Regions from separate parts of the Homo sapiens genome. Here region 2 is linked to region 1. Evidence: fine-mapped expression QTL. Tissue or cell type: tibial nerve. Region 1 holds a variant in brackets; the other region holds the start of a gene. All regions are shown on one strand. Distances are from middle to middle.

Evidence for each region. PIP is the estimated chance that this variant, and not a neighbour inherited with it, causes the effect.
Region 2: HMGXB3 starts here. The variant in region 1 is fine-mapped to the expression of HMGXB3 in tibial nerve (GTEx, PIP above 0.99).

Annotation. Positions count from the first base shown.
Region 1 is chr5:150,106,674-150,109,429 of GRCh38, forward strand. It overlaps a transcript of CSF1R not described here. Among named protein-coding and RNA genes, the nearest start is that of CSF1R, 21 kb to the left of the region's middle. The variant T/C (reference allele first, on the strand shown) is at 1,674.
Region 2 is chr5:149,999,615-150,002,114 of GRCh38, forward strand. HMGXB3 (HMG-box containing 3) reads left to right here and starts at 1,125. Exons shown (of 20, transcript NM_014983.3): 1 at 1,125-1,565. It overlaps TIGD6 (tigger transposable element derived 6), which reads right to left and starts at 1,040. Exons shown (of 2, transcript NM_030953.4): 1 at 860-1,040. RefSeq lists enhancers at 264-1,052, 1,940-2,019 and a silencer at 780-859.

The DNA.
Region 1 (2,756 bases):
GCCATACCCTGTAGCAGGGCTTACAGGGGCCTTTGCAATCTGATCTCTGCCTCTTCTCTCTCCATCCACCCTCCCTGCTGTACTGAACACTTGCAGCTCCTGCATACACCCCCACACTCCTTCTTCCTGTTCCACATACTTCTGCTTCCACCTGGCCCATAAGCCTCCCTTTGCCTGACTGAGTCCCTGTCTTATAGTCTCTCGTGGCTCCCTGAGTTTCCTGGCACTTCTCGCTGTCAACAGAAGCACAGTTATGAGAGTGGTTATTGGTGTGATGTCATTCTGACCCCTTTGTTCTGCAGCAGGAGTTTCCTGGTAGGGCCAGTCTCCCTTCCGGTCTTCTTTATACCCTCTACACCTGGCCCTGCCTGGCAGATGAGTGCTCAGTCAATGCCAGATGCATGAAGAAATGTATAAACAATCCAATGAATGAATGAATAAATGAAGAGCAAGGAGAAGCTCTCCACCCTCCAAAAGCAATTTATTCAGCAAATGCTTCATGTGTCAGGCCTTGTTCTGGGCCCAGGAAGGCCAAGGCTCAGAGCACTTTCCTGCATGCAGGGACCTCACCGCCTGGTGGGAGGTAAGGCAAGTAGCTAAGTGGTGTTATACAGTGCAGCTGATAATATCTGACATCTATGGACATTAACATGATTTGTCATCCAATTTGGAACCTTTGAGACTGGAAGGGGTGCTATTAATAATTGCATTAACACAGGGGCATGAAGAAGGACTGTTCTGGTTGATCCATTGGGCACACTCTTCATGCCAGTCTCTGGACTGAGCTATTTGCACAGATCATCTCATTGATTCTCCCAGCCACCTTAGGGGAAAGCTGTAATTACTCCATGTTACAGATGAAGAAAGACAGGCTCAAAGATGGTAAGTAACCTGCCTGGAGTTAAACAGCTAAGTGGCAGAGCTGGGTTTTAAACCCTGGAACCCAGAGCCAGAGCCCACATGTTCAACCACTGTCTTTCATCAATGGCAGGGGCTCTCAGGAGGATCGAGGGTAAAGGGGAACAGCCTAGGCTTTGGAGCCAGATAGACCAGGAATTCATTCCCCACTCCTAACCACAGCCAGGTCCCCGGCCTTTCAAGGCCTTGTTTCTTCATTATGTAAAATGGGGAAGGGGCTATTGACTCAGATCCAGTGAGACAATAATGCAGGTGAAGGGCATGCAACAGATATTTCTCAATCACTGTCCCTGGCCCTGGGGACATGGTGGTGAACAGGTCAGCTGTGGTCCCTCCCTTCTGCAACTCACAGCCTATTGTCAGAGCCAGGAGAGGAACCAGGCCACTGGGGGAGTTGCAAGATGTCCTGGGATCACCGGAGAGAAGAGTCAAGGAAGGCCCTATCTGAGTTGAGAGGAAGTGAGAAGGGTGAGGAGTTGGGGGAGAGATACAGGGAGGAGGAAGGAATGTTCCAAGAAGGAGAAACAGCACAGTAAAGGCCTGGAGGCGTAAGAGTGCACAGGGTATGGGAGGCTAAGAATGCTGAACAGATGTGAGGGCCCATAAGAGGCACAGACAAAGGAATGCGAAGAGAAATCATTTTCAGCTGAAGAATGAGGAAAGCTTCTTGGAGAAAGTAGCTTTTGCTGGGCTGGAAGCTTGAGCAAGACTTTGACCTTCAGCTATAAAAGACTGGGCATTCTAGGTGGTGACGG[T/C]AGCACCAAAAAAAGGGGCAGAGGTCAGGAAGCTAGTGGCCCACACAAGGTGGATGGACCTTGGAGGGCAGATGTGGGAGAGGCAGTAGGAGAGGTTGGAATCAGATCAGGGAGGGCCTTAAAGATTCCATGAAGGAGTCTCGACTTTGCTGGGCCACGGGGAGCCACTGAAGATGTTTGAGCAAGGGAACACCAAGACCATCACTATGCTTCAGGAAGATCAAGAATGAAAAAGAAAAATTTTCAGATGTGGAAGCTTCCCTCTTGTCTCTTCAGAGGGGAAAAAAGGGACTTAGAATTCTGTGATTTTCCAGAAACTGTGTTACTTCCCCATGTTTGTGACTTTTCTAGTTCCTGCAGTGAAGACCCACAAAATCTAAAACCAGAGACTGTGGATCTGCAAAGGGGAGCTGGGCAAGGGCAGCCTGCTGTGAAGCCCTGCAGGAGAAGGCGAGGAGCCCTGAGCAGGTGGGGGGTGGGAGCTGCTGGAGAGGGCAGACCTGTATGCCAAGAACATGTGGGTGAGGGAAGAGCCAGCTGGGAGGGGGTGGTACAGGGAGACAGTTCGGCTTCTGTGATGTCCCCAGGTCCCTGCCCCAGGCCAATGGTCCCTCGCCAGACCCCTACACAGTGGTGGCAGATTTTCTTCCAAGCTGTGGGAAACTTTCATGGCCCAGAGCGGCCCCAGAACCCCATCCCAAGGAGAAGCCCGCCCCCCCCCCACCACCCAAGAAATTCCAGGAGCCACATTCTGTGTAGGCAGCTGGCCCCTGACCCCAGGGCTCAGCCTGCTGGCCACTCTGAGATCTGGAACTGGACCTAGACACCCCCGGGGAAGGTAGGAGCAGGGAGGCTGGAAGGCAAGAGCCTCCCTGCAGTGACTGTAGCCAAGCCACTTGATGGCTCTGAGCCTCAACCTCCTCATCTGGAGGCTCCTCTCACAGGCTAATCGTGAGGATCCGATGGGACCACTGGTAGGAGCACACCCTACACCATGAGGGACTGGGGCAGAGCAGGGCGGTGAGGGAAGGCTGGGTTTCCCGACGGGTGGGATGCCCTGTCTAGATGTGGGATGATGGATTA
Region 2 (2,500 bases), 110 kb before region 1:
GTGCCATTTACTGAGGTGGGAGGATCTACTGCGTAAACCTCATTTGTTAAGCACTTTACTTGCTTAATATTGCTTACTTGTGGCAGGGCTGGGATTCAAACCCAGGAGGCTCACAACAAAGCTAGCACTCCAAACACTACAGAGTGCTATATAGCTGGTTCTGGGAACTACTAATATTGAGAGGAGACATAGAAAGAGAATGAAGCAAGAGCCAAATCAGACAAGTCTTGGTCAAGCTAAGACGTCTGAATTTTATTTTAAGTGAATGAGACACTGGAGGGTTTTAAGCAGGGAGTGACTTGATCAGACTTACAGTGCAAAATGATCAATCTGACTGCTTCGTGGAGAATGGATTGTAGAGGGGATGTGGGGAGAACTACATCAGTCCAGGCAGGAGATGATGGTGGCTAGAAGGTTGGTGATGGCGGTAGATGCAGAGAAGTAGGCAGACTGGAATACAGTGAGGGTTGTGCGGGAACTTGTACAAATGTGGACAACTTGTGACACTGGAGAGAAAGGACAATCCAATCCAATCCCTATTTGATTTACGGAAGCTCTCCATACGGTCATTCAGCTCAGCTTGAGTCACTCCAGGAACTCACTACCATCACTATTCGTGGGCCAGTGGGAGAGACGGATTGAGGGCAGATCACTGGAGTGATGAAGGCGCTACTTGATGCGGCACTACGTATGAACCCGATCCTGAATGAGAGGGAAAGACTGAGACAGGCTGAGGTCAGGCCTTGAACGTCGTGCTGAGGAGAGGGTGGTATTGTAGGCTTCCCAGCGCCCGACGTGGCTCTGAAAGGTGAGGCGGGGCCTAGATCCCTCACGCTCAGCACAGCCCCGCCCCTGTTACCTGAACGCCCCACAGCAGTGCCCGGGGGCTGAGCGGCCGGGGCGTCCCACCGCCGGCAGCCACAGCTTCCTCCTCCGCCCGGGACCTCTGGCCGGAAGCAGTCCGTTCGCCTTACTAGACCCGCTCCAAGCCTTTGAGCAGTTCGTGTGGGTCCGCTCCCAAGCTAGGGCTGGGCTGTTGCGCTTGCGCCAGGGGTCGCATGCAGTCACGCGCTGCCGACCGCTTCCGGTGCGCCGCGAGGGCCGCCGGGACGGGTCTCCCTGGCGATCCGTGGTGTGCCGCTACTGCCGGTGCAGCCGCCAAACCGGTGCCTCGGTGACGACCGTGTCCCTGCCGTCTTCCTCGAGCTCCCCGGGGCTTGACCCCCGGGGCCCTCGGCAGGCATCGGTGAGGAGCCTGCGGAGCGAACCTGTGCTCCTATTCTTGCCCTTCAGGACCCCATATCGCGACTCCGAGGAGGGGAAGCGAGAGGGGCTGTCGCGACTCCGCGCCGTGTGTCGCCGGGCGGGGCCGCGGGGCCGGGGCTCCTTCAGCCCCCGGGATGCGCGCGCGAGCCCTCGCCTCCACTTCCTTGTTGCTGCTGTCACGACTGGAGCCGCCTCTCGCCGACAGCGGGGAGCGCGAGTGCGCCAGCCATCCCCCTCGTCCAGCCGCCGGGCCAAGCGCCTCCGGGAATGTGAGCGGCGCAGCTTGCACGCTCCTCCGGGTAAGTCCCGCCTTCGAGGGCCGCGCCGAGCCGCTGGGCGACCTCGAGTTGGATGCTGCGGCTCTCTGAGCCTCTACTGAGTCTTCCACAAAGTAGGGCCACTGAGCCTTAGTGTCCTCCTTCCGCAATCCGTATGGGACATTCGGATGTCCCAGACGTCTTAGCTTGACCAAGACTTTGTCTGGTTTGGCTCTTGCTTCATTCATGACCCAGAATGAGGGAAAGGAGCTAGCCCAGAGTCAAACTGTGGCCCATGGCTGAGCCCTCAAAGGCAATCTCGTGAGATTCCAAGGAGGATCTGATGGGACAGAGAAAGTGTCTCGCATATTTCAGGTATTGACCTTAACTCTGTTTTACAGATGAAATAACGGAGACTTAGGGTAAGTAGATTGCTTAAGGTCAGAGGTCCCCGTGCTGGTGCGACTGGTGTAGTCTGTACTAGAACCCGGATTTTCTGTCCTCTAGAGCCCTTCGTTTTTAACCTTAAATTGTCCTGCCTTTTTTTGCATTGCTATACTGCTGCCTCGAGTCTGATAACAAACTTGTACTCAGGCTTAGAACAGGGTAATAAAACAAACAAAACCGTAGGGTGTTGTCTTCCTGCCCTCAGCCCAAGGTGGCTGTAATGAGTGTTTCCTAACCCGTTTTGCGCAGGGTGCTTAGTACCCTATATGCCATTCATTACAGATGCTCTCCTGCAGTTACTGCCCTTCTCCACAAGGCTTTCAGCCGCCCAGAAGTCAATTCAGGGCAAAAAAGCGCAGTCCCCACGTAGCCTTGATTTGAACTACTGCTTCCCTTATCCTTTACTGGCCTATTGCTTACCCAGCCAAGTTGTAGACTGTGTTCTCTTCCTGGGTTGCACTATGGCAGTTAGAATGTAGGTTTTTGTTTTGTTTTTCTTTGTTAGTTTAGTTTTTGTTTTTAATAGGAAG